Linked DNA regions of Homo sapiens. The protein of the gene in region 3 interacts with the protein of the main gene of each other region in a pairwise test. Each region holds a gene or a part of one and is shown on either strand. Other genes may lie near its edges. The genes, in order: ZNF165, PPEF1, AHCYL1 and PLEKHG5.

Region 1 (6,961 bases), on a different chromosome or scaffold from region 3:
CTGGTACAGCTCTCCTGGAAGATTCCCAAGGAAACCAAAATTATTGTAGCAAGGCAGAGTTAATACCAGCTTTATTATGCCAGAGAGTGGGAGACGCCCTATGTGTTTCTAATAAGTTTTTGTCATTTCACTGTTAGCTTGAGTTGCCTTCTCCTTTTGCTGTTATATCATTCCCACTGGCACCTGGAAATCCTTCCAAAATGTTTTCCTGGCCTGGGGCCATCACACAGCCCATCTGCATGGCCAACCTAACTGCTGAGTGTTTGGTCTTATGCCCTTGAATAGCCATGTAGGAACTCCATGGTGGACTGAGCCACTACTGGGTAAAGACTGGATCTCTGTACAAACTTGGATGACCGGACAATGCATATAAATAGGTACCCTAGATTCCTCTAACACCACACATGCAAATGTGAGTGATTGAGATAGGACATTGAACAACTACAGACAAAATTTAAGTTTTTCCCTAAACATGTCCCATAGGAGGCAACCATCAAAGTGAAAACTGCCCTGAAGAGCACCAGGTTCTGGCAATGGAGATCATACTGGCAAATGTGGGATGGCTTTCTTTAGCTCATCCTTACAGCAAGGATGCTCTCGAGTTGCATAGATCTGTTGGGAACAACATAATCACTCTAAAGACATTCAGGTAATACCTAAGGTATTCTCCTAGTACCTAGATTTCCTCCCAATTGCCCAATGCCAACACACCATTATCCTTAAGGTCACAGATTGATTTGTCACAAACAGTCTTGTAGGCCAGGAATATACTGAATTGCCCCAGATGGCACCCAGTGGCTCTCTGCTACTAACCTCCAGCCCTGGCTTCCCCTGGGGTGGCTTGGATGACTCCAGAATCTCTGGCACCATTCCTGTATCCCTCAATGAGTCCATCTGGAGAGGTCAGTGGAGTAGACCTGTTTTTTCTTGGTGGGATTACTTATTGACTATATTTGTGCCTCCAGGAGGTTCTTCTGATACTGTGTAGAAGCTGGAAGCCCTTCAGAGATTTGTCTCCACAGCTTTGAACAACACCAAACATGGTATGGAGGCCTTGAACATTGAAACAGCTGCAGTGAAAAAAGTGGTCTACAAAACCAAATGGCCCTAGAGATGCTGACATCTGTGCAAGGGGGAACCTGTGCCCTTTACAAAAGTGAACATTGTGTGTATATTCTAGACAAAGAAGCTGAAGTTAATCAATCCGTCCTTCACTCACGAAAGCAATTACAGCTTACTGACCACATAGGGTATGCCTGGTGGTCTACACAAAGTCATGTTTTCCAGGATGGGGTCCTTGGTGGAAAGCTCTGCTAGGAAGCCTTTTGGAAAATGTGATTTTAGATTTTGTCAGGTGCACTTGTATTTACTGTTAGTGTAGGTTTTGTTTGCAGTGTTTCATAAAGCCAGGGGAAAGAAATTGCCGATGATCCCACCCTTTCTGACCAGCTCAGGGAACATATAGGAAGAGATGGGCATGTGAGATTGTAAGAGCCAGTCAGGAAAATGGATTGCAGGATCTCTGACTGGAAATCACAGAGCCTTGACTATTCTGTGACTGAAAATCAGAGTGCCTTGACCTCTCTGTGACCTAGCCAGCTGCAGATTTTTTCCCAGCATGCTTGAACCCAAACTTGGGTCTTGAACATTCCCAGGCACTGATAAAGGTATCTAAGTTGTCACTGAAAACAGTGAAAGAAACTAGCTCTGGCCCTGAGCCAAATTCTTTAAACCCTTATATAAACTCCATACCCTGACCCCCTCACTGCAGACATATCTAGGTAGAATGTCCCTTTTCTCTCACCACCCATGGGGAGGATTCCTGCAACACTATGTAAGTTCCCTTAATAAATGCTTTGGACAGATCACCTTGGCACATAGTGCTCCTTTCTTTGGAATCCCAACCAGCCCCAACTAGGACGGTTTTGGGCACTCCCTTGTGTGAACTCCCCTGCCACCACTTTTGGGGGACAAAACAGTACATATCTAATAGAATCATCTTGTTAAAAAGCAAGGGAACAACAAATACAAAATTTGTGATAGTGTTTCCTCGGATGAGAGGTAGTATAGAGAGGGACTAGAAAAAGAGTAGTATTAAATCTAAGTTGTTGTCAATCTACAGTTCTTATAGACTAGGTAATGGATTAAAAAATGTTCACACTTTAAGGCCATGCATGGACCAATGACAGCCAGTGGTTTTAATTAATACCATTTTGAATATCTGAGTTCCACTGGGGTAAGGGGATGAATCAAACAAGGCCTCAGAAGAAAAGTTGTCTGGGAATGCAGGAAGGTTTTGCAGAGGAGATGAAGTTTCAGTTGCAACCCTGCTGCGTGGGCTTCAATTTCACCACCTGAGATTTAAATAGAGGCAGGAGTCACTCAGGCTAGAATGCAGTGGTGCAATCACAGCTCACTATTGCAGCCACCACCTCCTGGGCTCAGGCGATCCTCCCACCTCAGCCTCCCGAGTAGCTGGGAGTACAAGTGCATTCCACAACCCCCGACTAATTTTTTTTTTTTTTAATTTTTGTAGAGACGAGGTCCCAACTATGTTGCCCAGGCTGGTCTCGAACTCCTGAGTTCAATTAATCCTCCTGCCTTTGCCTCCCAAAGCGGGGAATTAGAAAAGTGAGCCAACACGCCCGGCCCACTAGTGTTAAAAAATAAAAACAAAAGCAATAATCTGACAGATAGAGCCAGGGAGGGCTATGAAGAGACACTTCTCAGGCTTGTATGCCTCATAAGAAAACTATCACATATGACTGCAAAACCCATCTTACACCAAAAATACCTCTGCAAGGACATCCGCCCAGCAACTGTTTGTCTAACCTCAGACTGGTGTCATCCTCGTTACCGATCTTTGTAGTCAAGAATAATGATTTCAAAACAATTAAATAATCCTCCCCATTCTTCCTTTAAAAACCTTTGTCTTCCTTTACCTCCCTGAATAGAAACATAGTTTACTCTGGCACGTCTATTCTTATTGCAATTTCCTATTCCCGAATAAACTTTTTTTTTTTTTTTTGAGATGGATCCTTGCTCTGTCGCCCAGGCTGGAGTGCAGTGGCGTGATCTCAGCTCACTGCAACCTTCACCTCCTGGGTTCAAGCGATTCTTCTGTCTTAGCCTCCCAAGTAGCTGGGACTACAGGCGCCCACCACCACACCCAGCTAATTTTTATATTTTTAGTACAGACGGGGTTTCACCATGTTGGCCAGGCTGGCCTTGAACTCCTTGTTAAATACAGTGAGTTCTAAATTTCTCTTCAAAGAATCAGTATGTCAGTATGTTCAATTCTTTGTTCTCCATTTTAAACTTTAACTTCCTCATTTTCCTCGTCTCCTTGCCTCTAGTTTCAGTAAACAACCTTTTCCACCAGTTCTAATCAGTAGTTCACATCTGTTCCCCTGGTGACCTGCTCCGTCCTGAGTCACCCCTGGTCACCTGCTCTGACCTGAGTCACCTTTAGTCACCTGTTCCGTAACCGTCCTTCCCACTGAAACTGCTCACCCTACCACTCCGGCTCATACCCCTGCTCTCTTTAAAATAGCCAATCGGAATTAACTTAGACTGTGCGGTCCAACCCTAGCCAGTAGGGGAACGACACAGCACTAGGGACTACCTGCGTCAGGGATAAGAACCCCTTCCCCTCCCTTGTTCAGGTGTGCTCTCGCCATTGCTCCATCCGTGAGACGCACCCTTCTATAGAAGTAAATTGCTTTGCTGAGAAAATGTGTGCTCGAGTGTGTATCTTTTTCTTCTTCTTCTTTTTCTGAGACTGAGTCTCACTCTGTCACCCAAGCTGGAGTGCAGTGGCGCGGTCTCGGCTCACTGCAAGCTCCGCCTCCCGGGTTCAAGCGATTCTCCTGCCTCAGCCTCCCGAGCACCTGGAACTACAGGCGCGTGCCACCACGCCCGGCAATTTTTTTTTTTTTTTTTTTTTTTGTATTTTTAGTAGACACAGGGTGTCACCGCGTAAACCAGGATAGTCTCGATCTCCTGACCTCGTGATCCGCCCGTCTCGGCCTCCCAAAGTGCTGGGACTGCAGGCGTGAGCCACCGCGCCCGGCCAACGTCATTTTCTTTTCAGGAGTCCCTTCTGTTATTTAGCAAGACACACTACTACAATGGAGAAAAAAGATGCCCCCTCCTTCAAGCCCTGAGATCTTCAGGACTTTGGCGAAAAGTCTGCGCCCGAAGAGACCCAGGAAGGATTCTTGGAATTGTAGTCCAAAGGCATCCCGCCTTCTGCGCAGACTCACAAGTCCCTGTGGACGGAATTCTTGAAGTGTAGCGCCGCTCAGTCCTTCCACCGGAAGTGTCCGATCGGAATCAGCCCTGTCCGAGAGGTGAGTCCGGGTTTGGGGATCCAGATGTCCAGCCCCGTGTCCCCCTCCAAACATCCAGTCCCTCTCATATTGCCTTTGAAATTAGCAGCCTCTGGGTGACCAGACCTTGGCCCTCAGAGGAATCCCGGAGAAAGGTAGAACCAGCTTCGGCGTTGGGAACGCAGGCGCGCTTACGCATTTAGTGAGGGTTTGGCGGTCTCCATAGTTACCGCCGCCGCGCGTGACGTCATAGTGGAGCGCTGAGGGCTTGGTGGCGTGGGGTGGGGGCTGTCCTACTGATCCTGAATTTGGGGTCACTGGTAAGAGGAGTTGCCCATTCCAGCCAGGTGGAACGGGGAGGGGTGCCACATGTCTCAGATCTGCCATTGTCTGCGAAAAGAAACTGCTGCGAGGACCATCCCCAATCCCCTGCTTCCCTTGGGAAGAGTAACCGCCGTTTTGTAGGACACTTGGGGACAACCCCGCTTGTCCTGAAATTTATTGACACGGTAAATAGTATTTCCTGTGTGCCGAGGATGCAGTTAAACCAACACTGACCCCCTGCCCTTGAGAAACACAAGGTACTATGGGAGCCTTTACCAGCATGCCCCTTGAAGTCTCTGTTCTGCTTTGTGGTCTCTACCGGATTTCCCCTGACTGTCTCCCTCTCCACCAACAAAACTCTCACCCGTCTTCCCCTCCCGCAACATGCCCACCAAGACATGTTCATCCATCAGGAGCCCTGCTCTTTAACCTCCAACTTTCTCATCATAATTAATTACTCGTTCCTCTCTGTTCTCCTAGCGTTTCTTCACACATCTGCTTACCCATTTTTGTAAGTCCTCCTAACACAATATTATAAGGCACTAGATGCTCAATCAATATTTATTAGTTTAAAGCTACCAGCTTTAGGGGGACTCGGTTTTAAATAGATGAGAAGTGATAAAACACCTGGAGATAGTACTGTCAGCTGAGATAACATGTCATAGAACCAGCTGCTCAGCATAATTGAAATTTCATTCGGATTATATGGGCCTACTTTACACCCATCTTACTATGGTAAATGAGATCATGCTCATTAAGCATTAGGACACTACTTGGTTAGCGCATCTAGGAAACATAACCAGAAATATCAAAGAAATGGCCCAGTAAAATATAAGGGATTGAGACTCTCTGGTTAATATACCATGGAACTAACCCCCCTTTTTTTTCTTTATCATTGATAAATTTTGTTCTTACTTATACTCAAATTGTTTGTTTTCCAAGGTTCAGTCTGAACCTAGTGATATTTATTTCATACTCTTGGAGAATTAATACTGTTACATATCTTCAACTACCCTTTTCATGAATCTTGTCTGCCAAGACAAGCTCGGTCATGGAGACCCTAACCCAGTGGCGCTAGAGGAATTAAAGACACACACAGAAATATAGAGTGTGGAGTGGGAAATGAGGGGTCTCACAGCCTTCAGAGCTGAGAGCCTTGAACAGAGATTTACCCACTTATTTATTGACAGCAAGCCAGTGATAAGATTTACTGAAAGTATTCCTTACGGGAAATAAAGGGATGGGCCGAAATAAAGGGATGGGCTCTGGCTAGTTATCTGCAGCATGAACATGTCCTTAAGGCACAGATCGCTCATGCTATTGTTTTCTGCCCTGGGTGGGCCAGGTGTTCCTTGCCCTCATTCCAGTAAACTGACAACCTTCCAGCGTGGGCGTCAAGGCCATCATGAGCATGTCACAGTGCTGCAGAGATTTTGTTCATGGCCAGTTTTGGGGCCAGTTTATGGCCAGATTTGGGGGCCTGTTCCCAACACTTGTCAAAATCTGTCTTCCCATTCCAAATTCTTTTCCATTATTGAAATATCATTGTTTCTGTTGGAAATATTTTTCCAAGTAGATGTCTTATTATCATCTTAAATACAGATCATCCAAAACAGAAGTCATCTGAAACTTTCCTAATTTTTCCTTTCAATCATAAATATGAAGCCTTAAGAACAATTAATAATGCATGATCCTTAACCTCATGGAACATCAATCAGTTGATAAAAAAACAGCCAAACAACTAAAAATAATACAAGGACTTATATATTCATATGTGTATGTGTTAGGAATTGTAAGAACTCAGACTAGAGTTGAGCAATTTCTTAACAGAGGCAGTAGAATTCTTAGTCACTCCAGCCATCACACCCTGCAAGTTGATCTCACCATCAGTCTGCTGCTCATTCCTACTTCCTCTACTCTGTTCCTTTCCTTTCTGAATCTTTCTCATCCTTTATTGTCCAATTTAAGCCCCATGTTAAATACAGTGAGTTCTAAATTTCTCTTCAAAGAATCAGTATGTCAGTATGTTCAGTTCTTTGTTCTCCACTTTAAAGTTTAACCTCATCTCCTTGCCCCTAGTTTCAGTAAACAACCTTTTCCACCAGTTCCAATCAGTAGTTCACATCTATTCCCCTGGTCACCTGCTCTGTCCTGAGTCACCCCTGGTCATCTGCTCTGACCTGCATCACCTTTAATCGCCTGTTCTGTAACCGTCCTTCCCACTGAAACTGCTCACCCCGCCACTGTGGTTCATACCCCTGCTTTCTTTAAAACAGCCAGTTGGAATTAGCTTAGACTATGCAGTC
Region 2 (5,803 bases), on a different chromosome or scaffold from region 3:
TGGGACTACAGGCGCCCGCCACCATGCCTGGCTAATTTTTTGTATTTTTAGTAGAGACGGGGGAGGTATGAGATTTCTAAGATATTATTAAGATAAAGGGGACTGAAATAAATGGGTGGGTATTACTGTGTTCAAGGACTATAAGGGTTGAAGTTGTCAAGATACAAATTCCTCCCAAATTGAGCTATAGTTTCAATGCAATCTCAGTCAAAATCCCAAGGTGGGGATTTTTCAGTAGATCTTGAGAATCTGTATCTAAAAGTCATGTGGAATTACAAAAGGCCCCAAATAGCCAAGATGTTCCTGAAGAAAAAGAACAAGGTGGGAAGACTTTCCCTATTATATATCAAGATCTATTATAAAAGTACAGTAATTAGAATGGTATGCAATTGGCACAAGAATACCCATATAGACAATGGAAGCAAGTAGAGAATCCTGAAACAGATTCATGCATATATAGACACTTGAAGGTCCCACTGCTGAGCAGTGGGCAAAGGAGTCTTTTCAATAAACGATGCTGGGCCAAATGGATATCCCTATAAAAATAGAAACAGCCTATATGTAATAAAGATATTTGTGTTTTGAAAAATTACATATATTAGGAGGAAAAGAATATTAGTTGTGAAATGACAGGTGAATAATACATCTTTTATTCTTTGTATTCTTTTGTGTTTTTCAAATCTTCTATAATAAGCAAACCTAGGCCGCGCATGGTGGCTCACACCTGTAATCCCAGCACTTTGGGAGGCTGAGGTGGGCAGATGACTTGAGGTCAGGAGTTCAAGACCAGCCTGGCCAACATGGTGAAACTCTATCTCTACTAAAAGTACAAAAAAATTAGCCGGGTATGGTGGCGTACACCTGTAATCCCAGATACTTGGGAGGCTGAGGCAGGAGAATCACTTGAACCCAGGAGGCGGAGGTTGCAGTGAGCTCAGATGGCACCACTGCACTCCAGCCTGGGTGAAAAGAGCCAGACTCCTTCTCAAAAAAAAAAATAAATAAATAAATAAGTAAGCATACCTTACTTTGTTAATCAAAAAAAAGGAAAAAAAAAATCTAACACGTGAAGTCTGATTTCTTACAGGTGACAGGAAGGACACGATCTGTGGAACACTGAAGATATCCTTGAGTTAGTTCTCCTTCAGGGCTGCAGGGCCTGGGAGGATAAATTATGAGGGAGAGCAGCTGGCCCCATGCTGCCCTGGCTCTCCCAAGGAGGTTGCATTCTTTAAAATCATATTTTAACAAATCATTTGGGCTTTGTTATTGTTGTTGTTAGGAAAACTTTCTGTGAGCCAGTGGGCTTTTTGCATGGAGAACATTTTGGGGCTGAACTTACCATGGAGATCCCTCAGTTCGAATCTGGTAAACATAGACCAAAATGGAAACGTTGAATACATGTCCAGCTTCCAGAATATCCGCATTGAAAAACCTGTACAAGAGGCAAGTGAAACATAGCCCCAGCTAAAACCTAGCCAGGGTGAAACATAACTTAGTCCTTTGAAAAGCTGGGAGTGGCCGGGCACAGTGGCTCACGCCTGTAATCCCAGCACTTTCGGAGGCCAAGGCGGGCAGATCCCGAGGTCAGGAGTTCGAGACCAGCCTGACCAACATGGTGAAGCCCCGTCTCTACCAAAAATACAAAAATCAGCCGGGTGTGGTCGTGCCCACCTGTAATCCCAGCTACTCAAGAGGCTGAGGCAGGAGAATTGCTTGAACCCAGGAGGCGGAGGTTGCAGCGAGCCAGGATCGCACCATTGCACTCCAGCCTGGGTGACAGAGCGAGACTCCATCTCAAAAAAAGAGAAGCTGGGAGTGGGATAATCTAATAGATGGAGTGGCAGTCTTAGGAAAAGCCGAAGGGGAATCTCCCAGGTACACTGTGGTCTGTTCAGCAAATTTGTGTGTTCCCAGGATAAGCAAAAAGAAAAAAGAAAAAGCTTCCACAAGCAAGTCCACATCAAATACTGGATTTTTTTTTGTAAGTGCTGTCTAGCAGAAGGGGAGATATGACATCCATGCTTTTTGTTTGTTTTTTGAGGTGGAGTCTCGCTCTGTTGCCCAGGCTGGAGTGCAGTGGTGCAGTCTCGGCTCACTGCAACCTCTGCCTGCCACGCTCAAGTGACTCTCCTGTCTCAGCTTCCCAAGTAGCTGAGATTACAGGCGCCTGCCACCATACCCAGCTAATTTTTATATTTTTAGTGGAGATGGGGTTTCACCATGTTGACCAGGCTGGTCTTGAACTCTTGACCTCAAGTGATCTGCCCACCTCGGCCTCCCAAAGTGCTGGGATTACAGGCATGAGCCCCTGTGCCTGGCCTGACATCCATGCTTTTATACAACATACCATTTCTAATACTTAATGTATTGCTTGTTAAGCCTGAGTGTACAGACTTGCTGACATGACCCAGAATATGTCTGAAAGAGTTTTGAAATGTAGAAATCTTTTCTTAGAATGTGAATATCAGGGAGATTTATCAGATCCCCATACTTATTAGTTAACAATTCATCAGCAGTTAAATATGACATTGAGCTGAAAAGGAGCTGGTTGGAGCTAGGACTTGGGTGATCATTTGCAGTGAAGATGAGACGTTAAGAGCAGAGAGAAGGGAAGTAAAGGTAGGTTAGAGACTAAAGTATCCCCAGGAAGGAGGCTTTTGACGTCACTTCAGAGGCAGTTTACCATGGTGACTAAGATCACAGGCCTTGGCTTCAGGCAGCCGAGATTTAAATCCCACTCACCAGCTCTGTGACCCTTGGGAAAGTTCCTTTATCTCCCTGTTTTCAAATTTGTAAAATGGACATAATAATAGTTCTGTTCTTGTTCATTCTTGTTGTAGAGGACCGAATGAAATAATCCACATAAAGTTCTCTGTAAATGGTGGCTGTGTTAGTTACTGCTGCCTTATTCATTTTGGCCCTGTCCCCTGAGGATCACAGACTGAATGAAGAGGGTGGGGCCTCCAAGGGAAGTCTGGCCTTCTCAGATTTCTGTCTAAATCACATCATTTCAATTGTTGATGATGTTTTCTGTTTGTTACATTTGCTAAAAGCGATCAGTGTCATGAATTCAATATGTTCTAACACTTAGAAAATCTTTATTTTAGGCTCATTCTACTCTAGTTGAAACTCTGTACAGATACAGATCTGACCTGGAAATCATATTTAATGCCATTGACACTGATCACTCAGGTAAATAAATGAACTTGGATGAGTCCATTTAAAAAGTGTATGTGTGTGTGTATGTTGGGGATACAAAATGAGTACACTTTGATTGAGCCCTATAATTAATATGGTTTGACACCTTCATTGGTAAGATGGAGGCCTTGCTTATGCATACTGTTAAATGAAAATTGTAGGAGCCCATTGTTTTGGACTAAGCTCCTTCACCAGGCCCCAACAGACTAGACTAAAAGTCAAAATGGGGTAGCAGTAGTAGAAAGCAAAGGCTAATCTGGTTCTCTGAAATCAGAACTCTGATTTTATCTATTTTGTTCTTCATCTAACATGATGAAACTTGAGGGGAAAAAGAAACTCATTTAATATTATTGTTATTTCAGTTTGGCTGCAGACTCTGTATTCAAGACCATAGAGTCCTACAGAAGCCTAGGTAGCCATCAGTCAAACTGAAATAACTTTTTATAAATCACCAGCACAAATGAAAAGATGATTTACTATCCATTTCAGTATCTTAGTTACTCATGGCCATAAAAATCATTCCTAGAAATCTGATTCTGTTTTGGGGAGTAAGGGCTATGAAAAGTCATTTTCTGCTTTTTTTTTTTTTTTTTTTTTTTTTTTTGCGACAGAGTTTTGCTCTTGTTGCCCAGGCTGGAGTGCAATGGCGGGATCTCAGCTCACCACAACCTCTGCCTCCCGGGTTCAAGCAATTCTCCTGCCTCAGCCTCCTGAGTAGCTGGGATTACAGGCATGCGCCACCACACCCTGATAATTTTTATTTTTAGTAGAGATGGGGTTCTCCATGTTGGTCAGGCTGGTCTCGAACTCCCGACCTCAGATGACCTGCCCACCTCAGCCTCCCAAAGTGCTGGGATTACAGGCGTGAGCCACTGCGCCCGGCCTTCTGCCTTTAGCTTTGATGCACAATTACTTATTTTCAAATTTTTAAAAACTCATCAGATAATCCCCTAATGCAGAGACCTTTGAACACCGAAAAAAAAAAAAAATCAATGATCAACACATTAAAGTAAATGATTGCCTGTGAAAAAGGCAGCACCATTGTTTGTAATCCTCTTATTGACTCCCACCGTATCTTCTCCCTCTGCTTTGATGTCATCCTCCTCTCTGCCCTCCTTCCATGCACCTCACCTTTCTATTTTAGGTCTTGTAATTTCTATACCACATTTAGTCCCATAGTCCACAACCCCGTCCCCATTTCTTCACTGTTTGCTCATTCTGGCTTTAGAATAAGTTCAGGATCCCTTGGTAGTTGAAAGTGAGATATTGTTTCTTACATTTATGATCTTACTCTTCCATATCCTTCAGTATCTTCATGATTAGGCAGTTTAGTGAGTTTCTAACTGGGGCTATTTAATCAGTGTGGGTTCCCCAACCCTTGCCTTAGGTGGGTCTTAAAATGAACACTCACAACCTTCTCCTATATTCTTTTAGGCCTGATCTCCGTGGAAGAATTTCGTGCCATGTGGAAACTTTTTAGTTCTCACTACAATGTTCACATTGATGATTCCCAAGTCAATAAGCTTGCCAACATAATGGACTTGAACAAAGATGGAAGCATTGACTTTAATGAGTTTTTAAAGGCTTTCTATGTAGTGCATAGATATGAAGACTTGATGAAACCTGATGTCACCAACCTTGGCTAAACACAAATGAGAGCTTCCCTCAGGCTCCCTGAAACAGCTAGGCCCAAATCACAAGTACAGTCCTTTCCAACACCCCTGAAATTCATAGTCAGTAGCAGAGAAAAGCAGATCCCAATTCATCCCACAAACAGATGCATAGTATGGGTTTTGGAAGTCCCTAGCAAGCTGTTATTGGTAAGATTAGGTTAAATGTCAGTAATAGGATTTGGTTTCAGCATTAGTACCTACATATTGCCAGTGAGAAACTGGGTTGGACCTAGTGGTGTTGTCGTGAGTGCCACCTAACCAGGAGGCCAGAGCGGTTTGAAAACATCCTGAAAGGAACTCATACAGCACAAGAGAAAACTACTAAGCTTGACATCTGTGAGTGACTGAGGGAGACAGGAGGAATACCAGGTTATTCATGGAATAAAGTCTTTCCATCTTTAAACTGTGATCTTCTTTGGAGATTTTATAAGCCAGTGATCCTCAATTAAGGGATCCACCCTTCAGGGATGAGAACCATATTGGATTCTTGGGGGGAATCTGTGGGAGTGTATTGTTTGAAAAAGCGTATTTGTGTGTGTGTGTATGTTGGAGATACAAAGTGAATACACTTGGATTGAGCCCTATAATTAATATGGTTTGACACCTTCATTGGTAAGATGGGGCCTTGCTTATGCATACTGTTAAATGAAAATTGTAGGAGCCCATTGTTTTGGACTAAGCTCCTTCACCAGGCCCCAACAGACTAGACTAAAAGTCAAAATGGGGTCACCCATGCTGAGGTCCTGTGTCATCTCCGGCCAGCTTCAATTGGCATAATAATGAAGTTCCCTCTGCCTTACAACAAAAATAACCTGATGTTAACCAATCAATTATTTGTTTATTGTTATTTCCCTGCTGTCTTACAAGGAAGGTAACTTTGAAACAACCAGTCTGCTTTTTGTCCTTTGGTTCTGCTTTCTTCAGTTTTT
Region 3 (7,030 bases):
GAACACTGGGAATCTTCATGTCTTGCTTGCTAAGAAAGCTGGTGCTCAGAAGCTGGGCACTGAACCCTCAAGTATTGAATAATAAGTGGGATACCACCTGGCCACCCATAAGAAACTGAATTAGTTACCAAAGCAACTGGATACATCTGCTATCTCTAGGAAGCACCTATTTCAACTTCCAAAATAGCAAAATTTGCCGGGTGCAGTGGCTCATGCCTGTAATCCCAACACTTTGGGAGGCCATGGCGGGTGGATCACCTGAGGTCAGGAGTTCGAGACCACCCTAACCAACATGATGAAATCCCATCTCTACTAAAAACAAAAACAAAAACAAAAAAAACACCAAAAAAAATTTAGCCAGGTGTGGTGGCACATGCCTGTAATCCCAGCTACTTGGGAGGCTGAGGCAGGAGAACTGTTTGAACCCGGGAGGTGGAGATTGCAGTGAGCCGAGATCGTGCCATCACACTCCAGCCTGGGCGACAAGAGCAAAAATCCATCTCAAACAAACAAACAAACAACACAAAATAGCAAAATTCTGAAGGTCTCCTTTTCCCCTGAATCTTGCCTAAGTTATACACTTGAAGTGAAACAGAACACACAAAATGTAGTGCCAACTAGAGCCTGAGCTTCTGGCTAGGATAAGCATTGGCCCAGTTCCCAGAAGACTGTAATTCTAAAGAAGGTGTGTTTCAAAGAGAGAAGGGCATGTATAGCTTTTGAGCATCAAACTCAGCCTTTGACTCAGAAGGGGCAGCCAGGGTTGCAGAGTAAGAACCAGAAGTTTGCTCATCACTGCCGGACGGAGCTGTTGTTTATTACTTTCAGAGTTCCAATGTACTTTCCAAAATCAAACTATTCAACTCATCGCTAATCCCCAAACCTCAAATACCCTATGTGAAAGCCTCCCTGTTCTTTAAATCAAGAGCATGTATAAACCAGGATACCAGTTTCAACTTTGGACAGAGTCTCCCTAATGCTAAGGGTTTAAAAGTTGTTTCAATGGTGAGAAATTCAAGTTACCTTCCCCATTATTGTCTAAGGATATCCCTATGCCCACTGCCACTGGGCTAAGAAGCTGGAGGCATATATTCAGATGTCTTCTCCCTGACCTCCTATTTCTGGCTTTATAAAGGGATCTATTAAGTTGGAAATTCTCATCAATTTCTCACCTGCAGTTCTTGGTACTTCCTTATACCTATGTGAGAGGGCTCTAAGTTAGAAAAATCACCCCAGCCAACTGAAAGGGAAAGTGAGTCAAAGCCACCACATAAGTCCAACTTACTTTCTCCAAGGAATGATTATCTCACATTATTTTATTCAATAAGCATTTATTGACAGTATTATGTGCCAGGTACTATATAAATATGTGTGAGATACGGTCTTTGCCCTCAACATATTCCATCTAGAAAAGTCAAATGATGAGTAAAATTCAAATATCAGGTCAGTCCTTAAAATATAATAGTTTGAGAAGTACTACATTGAAATCCAACCTATTTTTGAGAGACATACAGAAGCAAATTATTTTGTTTAGTTTTGATAATCTACTATGTGAGCTACTATTTCAAACACTCCTACGGAATCAGCTCTGGAGCTTCAGGGGCATCTGCATTTCATATGAAGAGCAGTAGAGTTGAGATAATACCAAAAATTCCCCCAAAGTGGCCGAAATGCCGGTTCGAATGTGTGTTAAGTTCCTGAGCTGAACTCTCAAGGCACTTATAATGAGTCTTTTGGGAAGCTGAGGAGCATCCCAAAGAGGGAGCTGACAATGCCAACAACCTCAGCTTTGTTCCAAGCCATAAGGACAAACTGCAGGCTGGAAACTTAAATCTCTTAGCAGTTTGTGGACTTGTAATGAAAAGAGATGCTGTGGCTTGGAGGCCTGGCCTTCCACATCAGGACTTTAAAACCCAGGATCCATGAGTTTCAGAAGTCCCATAAATCCTCTAACAGAATACGCATATTTTTGTGCTCCTGAATTTTCCTGAGGAAAGAACCAGGATTTTCATTAAACTCTTAAAAGGACCTCTGACTCAAAGAGTAAGAACCATTGTTCTACAGTCTCTAATCCAGTGATTCTCAAGAGCATTCCCTCAAATAGGCAAAAGAGAAGCATATTCCAATTCTCTATCTTCTACACAAATCTGTCTACTTACTGACCTCTCTTCTAAAATTAGAAACAAAGATGGGGATGTGCATTTTGAAAATTCAAAGTGAATCTCTATTTTCTACATCCCCAAAATAAAGCTAACAGTCATGAGAACCTGAAGTCTTCTCCTTAAAGTCTTTGAGAAAGGAGAAGGGGTGGGTCTGGTCAAAGAGGGCAGATCAGAATCTCTGTCCTTTAACTTTTTTTTTTTTTTTTTTTTTTGAGACGGAGTCTTGCTCTGTTGCCAGGCTGGAGTACAGTGGTGCGATCTTGGCTCACTGCAACCTCCACCTCCTGGGTTCAAGCGATTCTCCTGCCTCAGCCTCCCGGGTAGCTGGGACTACAGGTGTGTGCTGCCACACCCAGCTAATTTTTTTTGTGTTTTTAGTAGAGATGGGGTTTCACCATGTTGGCCATGATGGTCTCGATCTCCTGACCTTGTGATCCTCCTGCCTCGGCCTCCCAAAGTGCTGGGATTACAGGCGTGAGCCACTGGGCCCAGCCTGTCCTATTAACTTTTATGGTAGGTCTCTCTCTTTTCTTCCCCCCGCCCCCAGATTTCTGGAACCACAAAGGAAACAGGTCATGGCCCAAAAGCTTTGACGTGAGGTCTTGACGTGAGGTCAAGCCAGTCTTGGGGGAAAAGGGACAAAGTATTTCCCATTAAGCATATGGAAACCTATGTCCCAAAGGTTCACCTTAATACAATTAGTAAGTACTAGAAGAGTTGGAGCCATTTATTAAAAACAGAACTTCCAAAATCCTCTCATTGCTCAAAACTCAGTATGAACGGCTTCATTCAGGAAGTCTAAGTGAATGAAAGATGGTTATACTCATCTCCTCCAGCCTCTTGCCCCTTTACTCTGTCACTCACAAATTTACTACGTAGTTCACACTGAGCCACACATCATTGTGGATCAGCACATTAGCATTTTCCTTGGCACACAGGCTCAGAGGGATTCCACTAATGCCATCGTACACTCGCAGGTTCCGGAGAGAAAAGAAAAACATGTCAACAATAGGGTGTGCTCTTGCTGAGCAGTTCCTCAAATTGTGAAGAAGTAAGCCTGAGGCAGGTCCAAGATGAACAGCATGGAACAGAGAGCAGTCCCAGACCCCTCCTGTTTAATATGCCCCATTTCCATCACACAACTGAGTACAGGCTGTCCACTTTAAAACAAGTGAACTGGCTTGGGCTGGTAGAGAAGAACATGTTAAGCCCATTAAGCCCCACAGGTTAAGTACACAGGCACATCAGCGGAGGCGTTGGGGCTTTTATGGTAAGAAGCAGGAGCATGCTTGGAGAGTCTTGTACCTGTGGTTCTCAAAAGTACTTTTCCAATCTCTACCCCAGATTTCCAAATACTACCTTTTACCAATAGTTCATTAAACTTTTTACTTTGTGTTCCATTTGGGTAGTGAATGATTAAGCCCCCCAATGTATACTGATAAGCAGTATCCATCATTATCTACATTCTGAGATTAAGGCACCAGGCTAAATCCTTTAGAAAAATTAAACAGAGATAGAAACAAAAATGAAAGCAGTCTGAGTCTCTCAACAAAGGCATGGATGCTCCACTCTAGTTCTATGAGTGGCATGCAGCAAAGGCCACACATTTCTACAGGAGAAAATCAGTTATACATAATTAGAAGCAGGCTGTTAAGAGCAATGAGAAAACAGTACCTGCAGGGATGGGGGCGGGGGTGCTGGAGTACATACCTAAAATGATAAAGTCACAGTTCAGAAGTCTTTGCAATTATTTCATGTAATTCAAGGATTCTAGTTTGGGAAAACCCCAAACACCTGAAGTTTAAGGAAATAAACTCCTGGACTGAGACTGGCCCAGTGTCTGACAAATACCCACATTCTATGAGTGCATTATGTATTACGGGGGATGAATGGGGAATGGTAAGGTAGAGGACATCTCAACTCCATCAAAAGCTCTAAGATCTCTGTCTACACACCCCACCCCTGTAGTTAACAAAATGTTTTGGGGTTCAGTAGCTGTAAGCTCTATATAAAATAACATTTTTGTCAGAAAAAAATTTTCTTATTGAAAAGACATTCCAATAGAAACTTCTTTGTTTTGGCTCTTTAACATTTCAAAATTAGGCTCTCATTTGCACTATCATGTTGCATCATCCAGAGAGTTATAAATAGGGTGGCCACATAAACCAGGGTAACTTTCAGAGCTACGGAGGCACTCCTTGGACTGCATGCTAGGATAACAGGTATAAACCAGAATTGCGCCAGGCAAACCAGGATATATGGTCACTCTAGGTACAAAAAAACCCCACTAATTACTATTTACTAAATGCTAACCCTCTCAACCATGTATATAGATAGCACTATCATTGTTCCCCATTTTACAGATGAGAAAAGGACGTCACTTGTTGAATGTCCCACAACTATTAGATGGTAGAGACTAAAGGTAAAACTGACTCCAAAAATCAGTGCTTACCTTATGTTGTACTACTACTCACAGTTTTAGGAACAGAAACGGGAAGTTAAAGGCGTCTTATGTAACAGCCAAGCAACAGTGGGACAAAAGAACTACTTGAGTGAGTCAAAGGAAAATATGGAATCAGAAAAGGAAAGGCAACTGCAATTCTGTGTGAATTTTTATTAACTGCTTACTACACAATAGGCACTGATAGTATTGACAATAATCAAAAGGAAAATTTGTGGTAAGAATTTGTCTTCAACTGGGGATTCTCAGATTTCAGGCTAGAAAAAATTCTGGTCTATGCACGTAGGTTGCCCTTCACATGACAGGAATGCTTCTGACGCACCTCATTAGCATGTGTTCTGAATTACTATTCAGTTCTAAATTATAATAAAATGTATCCAGTATAATCAGGGTTGACATTCTTTATAAAAATGCAATACTCACATTCCCAAACTTGAGAAACAGGTACGTATAAATGATTCTCCTTTATTCGCCAGTTCCTTTAAAACAACCCCAAGAGGGCATTAAAGTGCTTATTTACAGATCATTAACTACTCGGAGTGGCAGAGTACACTTGCTAGGAGTCACAGGCAACTAAAGACCTGCATGATTCCATGTATCAAAATATCCTTTATAGACAACTTTCCAAGAATACTATATTGGGGTGGGCGTGGTGGCTCTTGCCTGTAATCCCAGCACTTCGGGAGGCTGAGGTGGGAAGATCGCTTGAGCCCAGGAGTTCAAGACAAGCCTGGGCAACACAGGGATTTCCCCATCTCTATAAAAAATAAAAATAAATTTTAAAAAAGAATATTATATTGGGTAAAACACTCTGGATCCAAATGACACACTCCTGATAAAAGAAAAGGTATACATTTGTAACCTTGGCAGCAAAAGATCTAGACAACTACTGATCTAGAAATCTTCTAACAGATTTCTGTTACAAGCTAAATGTCTAAAGAAACTTGGAACAAAGTAATTTGGAAACTAGAGTGTAACTAACTAAACCAAACAAGAAAAAGAGATGTAATCAATACCTGCGGAGAAATCTTAAAAAGAGGATCTTCTTACACCCCAACTCCTGTTTTAAAGACTGCTACTACAACAGCAGCCACTCTAAGGAGAATCAAGAGATACTAATGATGTGAAGATAGGAAATGCCAACCTATGAAATCTCCTTTCAGTGATTCTGACAAGTCCTGGCGTAAATTCTATACAACTGCACCAAAAATTAACCGTAAGATAACTCTGATGACAAAAGGAGAAACCTGGATTTTACCTATCGGGTTAACACCCAAGCTGTACCCATTGGGGCTCTACTTGGTGTGCTTCCTAAGTCTCAGCTGACCCTTTTGATGAATTAGTGGCACATAGCTTCATTCAAATAAAGAATATCCTATAAACAAAAGTAGTTTCTTCTGTGCTCTTCTCCTTCCCCACATTTTGCTGATGGGTCTGACTCCACAGATCCTAGGTCAAAATGTTTAATGGATCACTCTGGAGAGTGCCTTTAATGTTCAGAAGTTCAGAGAACAGCAAATGTTCTGAAAGGCCTTCCGGAGAAACATGCTTATTGTAAGAGCTCTCCAACAAGTTGGAGATTTGGGTTTACACTATGAAAAAAGAATCAACTTGACACAGTGTCAATTTCCAAAGGTCCAAGGACAGTTACCACTCCTGTTACACAAAGTAGCAGCAAAAGAGGGATAAATAACCAGTGGTTATGGGGAACTAGATTACTTACTTGGTTTGACCGATAACTGCCAACATTAAACAAGGATCTTCTTCAGTTGTGGTACACTTAACTCTTAAAACTCAAGGATTCCTTTTCTTACCTCAAATTTTCCTAGCCATACCATCTGAAATCACCAGTGACAGTCGTGAACAAGCCTTACAATGTGAATTACACTACAGCTATTAAGACATTCCCGTGAAAAATTATTTTAGAACTCTGTGTCAGGAAAAGTCGTCCCCTTGAGGAATTGACATGTATTATTTCCCATGCCTGCTAAGGAGACTGTAACTATGATTCTTTTCATCCTCTGGCTGCTAAAAGTTTCAAGTTGCATGTGATCAACCTCATCAACTATCTTAGCCCTCGAGGTTAACAATATTTTTTTCATTCTTTCTATAGTTTTTACTTCCTTTTATATCACATATATGTTCTGTGTTATAAGCCACTTCAAATGCCCATTGAAGAAAGAATATAAATATACGAATAGACTTTTAAAAAATTACACTGCTATCTTAACTCCCCAACATGCCCCTATCTCCACCTGTTCCAAAAAAAATAGGCACTTATTTGGCAGATGAGGAGATGCAGGTACAAAAGCTAATTAATTTGCTCAAGGTCATATCCCTTTAGTTGACTTCTCGACACCCAGACATCTCAAATCTTCAATCAAACCAACAAGTCCTATTTTGTTCA
Region 4 (7,030 bases), about 100 Mb from region 3:
AGCCAGGATGGTCTTGATCTCCTGACCTTGTGATCCGCCTGCCTCAGCCTCCCAAAGTGCTGGGGATTACAGGCATGAGCCACCGCGCCTGGCCTTTTTATTTACTTATATATTTATTTATTTATTTATTTATTTATTTATTTATTTATTTTGAGACGGAGTTTTGCCCCAGGCTGGAGTGCGATGGCACAATCTCGGCTCACTGCAACCTCTGCCTCCCGTATTCAAGCGATTCTCCTGCTTCAGCCTCCCGCGTAGCTGGGATTACAGGCATGCGCCACCATGCCCAGCTAATTTTGTATTTTTAGTAGAGACAGGGTTTCTTCCATGTTGGTCAGGCTGGTCTCGAACTCCCAACCTCAGGTGACCCGCCCGCCTCGGCCTCCCAAAGTGCTGGGATTACAGGCATAGCCACTGCTCCTGGCCCCTTTTGGCTTTTATTCAGAGTGAGATGGGAACCCTTGGAGGGTTTTGAGTAGATACAGTGGGACTCCTCTTTGAACAGGGCCCACTCTAGCTGCACATGGACAACATATTGTGGGGGATGGGGGTAGCAGTGAGGCCAGTTTTGAGGCCATTGTTGTCATCTAGCTAAAAGGTGGCTGGGCAGTGGCACGCTTATGAGCTGTGGCTGGGTTGAGGCCACAGATACTAAAGGTGGAGCCAGCGGGATTTTCGGGCTGACCAGATGGGGGCATAACAGAGAATGTCAAGAGTGACCCCAAGCTGATATGGTGGCTCACACCTGTAATCCCAGCACTAATTCCAGCACTTTGGGAGGCTGAGGCGGGCGGATCAGTTGAGCCCAGGAGTTCGAGACCAGGCTGTGCAACATGGCGAAATCCTATCTCTACTAAAAATTAGCTGGGTATGGTGGTACATGCCTGTAGTCCCAGCTACTTGGGACGGTGAGGCAGGAGAATCACTTGAACCCAGGAGGTAGAGGTTGCAGTGAGCCGAGATTGCGGCACTGCACTCCAGATTGGGTGACAGAGTGAGACCCTGTCTCAAAAAAAAAAAGGAAATCCCCCACCTTGCAGCCATCAGAAGAATCAAATAATTGATTTAGGTTAAAATCATCTATGTATGCTAAAGCTCTTAGGACCGCAAGCTCACATCACCATGCCTGGCTAATTTTTTTTTTTTTGGAGACAAAGTCTCGCTCTGTCACTCAGGCTGGAGTGCAGTGGTGTGATCTCGGCTCACTGCAACCTCTGCCCCCGGTTCAAGCAATTCTCCTGCCTCAGCCTCCTGAGTAGCTGGGACTACAGGCGTACGCTGCCACGACTGGCTAATTTTTTTGTATTTTAGTAGAGACGGGGTTTCACCGTGTTGCCCAGGCTGCTATCGAACTCCTGAGCTCAGGCAATCCACCCGCCTCGGCCTCCCAAAGTGCTAGGATTACAGGCATGAGCCACCGTGCCTGGCAATTTTTTATATTTTTAGTAGAGATGGGGTTTTGTCATGTTGGCCAGGCTGGTCTTGAACTCCTGACCTCAACTGATTGAGTGAGATTACTGGGGAACAAGACATCTCAAAGTGCCATGCCACAGATTACTTATTAATTATAGGGGAAAAAGGGACTCTACAAGGTACAGAGGTCCCCAGAGGATCCAGCATTACAGGCAAATAGCAAGAACACACAGCTCTGTGGTGTCCCCGCCTGAACGCTCAGTTTGAAACTTTCTGAGGACCACCAGGGAGATCCACATTGAGGAGCTCTGTGCGAGGCTGCTGGCTCGAAGACTTCCAAAATGTCAAGGTCAGCCAGGCACAGTGGCTCATGCCTATAATCCCAGCTCTTTGGGAGGTCAAGGCGGGCAGATTGCTTGAGCCCAGGAGTTCAAGACTAGCCTGGGCAACATAGTGAGATCTGTCACTACTAAAAATAAAAAAGTTAGTTGGGCGTAGTGGCATGCACCTAGTATTCCCAGCTACTAAGGAGGCTAAGGCAGGAGGATTACTTGAGTCCGGGAGGTTGAGGTTGCAGTGAGCTGATCATGCCATACTACTCCAGCCTGGGCTACAGAGCGAGACCCTGTCTTGAAGAAAAAAAAAAAGTCAATGTAATAAAAGACCACAAAAAACAAGGCTGGGCACGGTGGCTCACGCGTGTAATCCCAGCACTTTGGGAGGCCGAGGTGGGCGGATCACGAGGTCAGGAGATCGAGACCATCCTGGCTAACACGGTGAAACCCCATCTCTACCAAAAATACAAAAAATTAGCCGGGCGTGGTGGCGGGCGCCTGTAGTCCCAGCTACTCAGGAGGCTGAGGCAGGAGAATGGTGTGAACCGAGGAGGCGGAGCTTGCAGTGAGTCGAGATCGCGCCACTGCACTCCAGCCTGGGCGACAGAGCGAGACTCCGTCTCAAAAAAAAAAAAAAAAAAAAAAGGATAAACAGACATAACCAAATGCCACGTGTGAAACTTGATTAGTTCCTATATGAGGAAGTATATCTGTAAGAACGTTATTTAGACACTTGGGAAAATGTCAATATAGACTATATATCAAGGTTCAGTTTCCCAAGTGCGACAATTCTATGGGGTTTTGTAGGAAAACTGTCTTTGTTCTTAGGCAGCAGCATGATTTCTGCCCCAGGGGAGGGGGGTGCCGAGAAGAGAATGGGAGAGAAGCAGATGTGGTAGATATCAACTTGGGGAGTCCAGAGGGCATGTGGATGTCATGTGCTATTCTTATAATTTTTGGTAGGTTTGAAATATTTTAAAACAAGTCTGGGCGCGGTGGCTCACGCCTGTAATCCCAGCACTTTGGGAGGCCGAGGCAGGCGGATCACCTGAGACCAGGAGTTCAATACCAACCTGGCCAACATGGTGAAACTCCGTCTCTACTAAAAATACAAAAATTAGTCGGGCGTGGTGGATTGTGCCTGTAATCTCAGCTACTTGGGAGGCTGAGGCAGGAGAATCACTTGAACCCGGGAGGCGGAGGATGCAGTGAGCTGAGATCGTGCCATTGCACTCCAGCCTGGGCAACAGAGCGAGACCCCTTCTCAGAAAAATTTAAAAAAATAAAAAGAAAAGAAATATTTTAAAACAAAACTTGGGAAAAATAAAGAGAGTGGGAGGAGAGAACTAGGAAGTCGTGAATACTGATACCTGTTTACAGAGTTTAGCTGTGAAGGGAAAGAAAGAAAGTCAGCCGTAGCTGGAGGGTGAGGTGAGGCCTCTGTAAAATGGAGAAATAAGGCTGGGCGTGGCAGCTCATGCCTGTAATGCCAGCATTTTGGGAGACCAAGGTGGGCGGATCACTTGAGGCCAGGAGTTTGAGACCAGCCTGGGCAACATGGTGAAACCCCGTCTCTACAAAAAATACAAACACTCGCCTATGGTGGTGTGTGCTTCTAGTCCAAGCTACTCGGGAGGCTGAGGCTCGAGGATCACGTGAGTCTGGGAGGTCAAGGCTGCAGTGAGCCATGATTGTGCCACTGCACTCCCTGTCTCAAAGAAAGAAAGAAAAAAAAAGATGGAGAAGCCGGGCGCGGTGGCTCACGCCTGTAATCCCAGCACTTTGGGAGGCCCAGGCGGGCTGTTCACGAGGTCAGGAATTCGAGACCAGTCTGGCCAACACAGTGAAACCCTGTCTCTACTAAAAATACAAAAAAAAAATTAGCTGGGCATGGTGGTGTGCGCCTGTAATCCCAGCTACTGGGGAGGCTGAGGCAGGAGAATTGCGTGAAACCAGGAGGCGGAGGTTGCAGTGAGCCGAGATCAAGCCATTGCACTCCAGTCTGGGTGACAGAATGAGACTCTGTCTCAGAAAAAGAAAAAAAAGAAAAAGATGGAGAAATAACCACGTGTTGGTGTGGCAGTGGGGGAAATGATCCAGCAGAGGGGAAACTTGATGATGTGGGAGAGGGGGGACTGCTGGGGGGCGTCTCCTCACCCTGGATCGAGAGATGGAGGGCAGTTCATTCTAAGTCCCTGCAGCGCTGGGCCGGGGTCGAGGGATGTGGTGGATCTCGTGGACCTCCTGAAGGCTTCTGTCCCCACCCCAGGTATGTCACCACGCCGACTGCCAGCAGCTGCACCGCCGGGGGCCCCTCAACCTCTGCGAGGCCTGTGACAGCAAGTTCCACAGCACCATGCATTATGATGGGCATGTCCGCTTCGACCTTCCCCCACAAGGTGAGCACAGGCGGGAGCCGCAGCTCGGCCCCCAGAGCTCCTGTGTCAGTGTTTCAGTAACTGTCGGAAACGTGCTAGGGCGTCATAAGGACAAGTCGACTGTAAATAATGAAACCCGAGTATGTTACGGTTCCTTTTGTTCCAAATGTTTTTTAGCAAGAGAGAAAGTCCATGAGCGTGCCCCTTCCAGAGGCAGGCCTTTCTCTATCTGGTGCTGTGCTCTCACTGGTTCTCACCTCCCCCAGCTGCTTTTGCCCCTGGCCTGTGGCCCACACAGAGAAGGCCCCTTTCTTTCTAGTTCTGCCTATCCTCAGGGCAGGGGACTTCTGGACAAGTCCTGCAAGCCAGGCTGTGGGCCTAGCAGAGGCAGTGTGGAGTGGGGGTGGCCAGGTCAGGAGGCACTTGGAGCAGGAAATAAGAAATTCCTCTTGCTGAGCAGGGACCCAGCTCAGGCCCACCATCAACTGCCTATGGAGGAGTGGCTCGCAGGCACCCAGGCCTGGTGAGAAATGCCAACCCCCGAGTCCTTTCCCAGCTGATCAGAGGAACAAAAGGATTCTTCTGGTTGGGCACGGTGGCTCATGTCTGGAATACAAAAAATACAAAAATTAGCCAGGTGTGGTGGCACACACTTGTGGTCCCAGCTGCTCGGAGGCTGAGGTGGAAGGATCGCTTGAACCCCGACAATGGAGGCTCCAGTGAGCCCTGATCGTGCCACTGCACTCCAGCCTGAGCGACAGAGCAAGACCCTGTCTTAAAAAACAATAAACAAACAAAAGACTCTCTCCCACTGCCAGGGCCCCTTGGGAATTCAGGTGTGGTCACAGCATGGGGGAGGGGAGGCCTGGAAGAAAGAGCCATGGACTTTGGTCCCTTCCTGTAATAACCTCAGAGGCAAGGCTTCCTTATCCTTATTTTATAGAAGGGTAAACTGAGGCCACAGGTGAGTTTGTTTTTGGGGTGGAGCTTCACCATGGGTGTCATCCCAGGGCCTTTGTGTCCTTTTGGGTCTGTGGGGATAGACAGCAATGACTAAGGCCAGGCAAGGTGGCTCACACCTGTAATCCCAGCCCTTTGGGAGGCTGAGGTGGGTGGATCACTTCAGGTCAGGAGTTTGAGAACAGCCTGGCCAACATGTTGAAACCCTGTCATTACTAAAAATACAAAAAAATGAGCCGGGTGTGGTGGCACACGCCTGCAATCCCAGCTACTCAAGAGGCTGAAGCATGAGAATTGCTTGAACCCAGGAGGTGGAGGTTGCAGTGAGCCGAGATCATGCCACTGCACTCCAGCCTGGGTGACAGAGTGAGACCCTATCTCAAAACAAAAACAAAAAACAATGACTGAGCCCCTCTCCTCACAGAACTGAAGGGCCCTTGCTACCTTTAATCTGGGGGTTCCAGGGTAACAGGCTGTGGTCCCTCTGGAGGCAGCCATGCTGCAGGCTAAGGAGGGGCGGGGGAGGCACAACCCTCTCCTGCTTTCTCCCAAGGCTCTGTGCTGGCCCGGAACGTGTCCACCCGGTCATGCCCGCCGCGCACCAGCCCCGCAGTGGACTTGGAGGAGGAGGAGGAGGAGAGCTCTGTGGATGGCAAAGGGTAGGTGAGGGATGAGTGGGCAGAGAGATACCTGGAGGGCCCCACGGCTGGGTCTCAGATCAGACATTCAGGACCAGATGCTCTGGCGCCTTCCTCAAGTAAGGCTGATGGGCAGACCTCTTCCCACGCCTGTGGCTGTCCTGACTCCGGGAAGAGGCCACCCAGCCTGGGCCAGCCTCCAGGGTGCTTGGGATCCTAGCCCACACCAGACCAGGTACCGTTCGATGTGACTCCCGTGTTGGCCACCAGAGGGCGCACAGCCCTATGCGGGCCTGGCCGGGTTGAATCCACGCGGGTTACCTGTCACCTGGGGTGAGCCAAGGGCGGGGAGGCCACAGGCCCACTCGCCGCCCACGCTGGCGAGGGCCACCCACACCTCCAGCCTCTGCCCTCCTCGCTTCCCTGCAGGGACCGGAAGAGCACAGGCCTGAAACTCTCCAAGAAGAAAGCAAGGAGGAGACACACGGATGTGAGGAGCCCCCCAGAGCCGGCAGATGCGGGTTCCCTACAGCCTGCGCCCTTCCCCGAGCCTGGGCCTTCCTCCGGGATGGGGGTGGGGAGGTCTGCATCCCAGGGTGCAGAGGTCTGGGAGATCGCTGGGGTTCCCTTTCTTGCTGGGGTTCCCATCCGAGACCGGAGGGTGGGGAGGGTGGGGAGGAGGGTTGGGAAGGAGGGTGGGAAGGAGGGTGGGGAGGAGGGTTGGGAAGGAGGGTGGGAAGGAGGGTGGGGAGGAGGGCGGGAATGAGGGCGGTGAGGAGAAGCTCACAGCCCCCACCCCCACCATCCTCCCAGGACCCAAGCAAGGAATGCTTCACTCTGAAATTTGACCTGAATGTGGACATTGAGACAGAGATCGTCCCAGCCATGAAGAAGAAGTCACTGGGGTAGGGCTTGATGGGGCTCAGGGTGGAAGTGGGACTGGGAGTAGGGGTGGCCCCATGTTGCAGGCTCCGGGTCTCTGCAGGTGTGACGTGTGTGTCTGTGTGGTGGCCCGTGAGCGAGCGCATCCCTGCGTGGGCAGACCCGTGCTGGTGTGCACGCCAGTGTGAGGGAGTGCGGTGGGGTCTGTGTACTTGTGCATTTTAATCATGTATGCAGGAGCCAGGCCTGCGTGTGGGCAGGCGTGTGACAGGTCTGCCGTGGTATGCAGATGCGCCTGTGTGAGCACCTCTGCGGGCAGGTGTCTGTGGACCTGCGTGTGATCCCATGCGGGCTTCCCTTTTCCGTTGGGAAGGTGGGGGCAGCTGGGGCTGTGGGTGGGGCGGGGGCTCGTGGGGGCGGGGCC

The links.
Region 1: the proteins of AHCYL1 (region 3) and ZNF165 interact in binary tests that used the Homo sapiens proteins (3 or more experiments, as listed by UniProt).
Region 2: the proteins of AHCYL1 (region 3) and PPEF1 interact in binary tests that used the Homo sapiens proteins (3 or more experiments, as listed by UniProt).
Region 4: the proteins of AHCYL1 (region 3) and PLEKHG5 interact in binary tests that used the Homo sapiens proteins (3 or more experiments, as listed by UniProt).

Annotation. Positions count from the first base shown.
Region 1 is NC_000006.12:28,076,619-28,083,579, forward strand, and holds the start of ZNF165 (zinc finger protein 165), read left to right. Parts: upstream 1-3,949; 5' UTR 3,950-4,352; exon of another isoform or gene 4,353-4,912; intron 4,913-6,961. UniProt on the Homo sapiens protein: May be involved in transcriptional regulation.
Region 2 is NC_000023.11:18,822,641-18,828,443, forward strand, and holds the end of PPEF1 (serine/threonine-protein phosphatase with EF-hands 1), read left to right. Parts: intron 1-1,282; coding exon 1,283-1,446; intron 1,447-3,110; coding exon 3,111-3,195; intron 3,196-4,635; coding exon 4,636-4,847; 3' UTR 4,848-5,277; downstream 5,278-5,803. UniProt on the Homo sapiens protein: May have a role in the recovery or adaptation response of photoreceptors. May have a role in development.
Region 3 is NC_000001.11:109,987,753-109,994,782, reverse strand, and holds part of AHCYL1 (S-adenosylhomocysteine hydrolase-like protein 1), read right to left. Parts: intron 1-7,030. UniProt on the Homo sapiens protein: Multifaceted cellular regulator which coordinates several essential cellular functions including regulation of epithelial HCO3(-) and fluid secretion, mRNA processing and DNA replication.
Region 4 is NC_000001.11:6,474,646-6,481,675, reverse strand, and holds part of PLEKHG5 (pleckstrin homology domain-containing family G member 5), read left to right. Parts: intron 1-4,017; coding exon of another isoform or gene 4,018-4,104; coding exon 4,105-4,147; intron 4,148-5,639; coding exon 5,640-5,745; intron 5,746-6,153; coding exon 6,154-6,214; intron 6,215-6,537; coding exon 6,538-6,629; intron 6,630-7,030. UniProt on the Homo sapiens protein: Functions as a guanine exchange factor (GEF) for RAB26 and thus regulates autophagy of synaptic vesicles in axon terminal of motoneurons. Involved in the control of neuronal cell differentiation.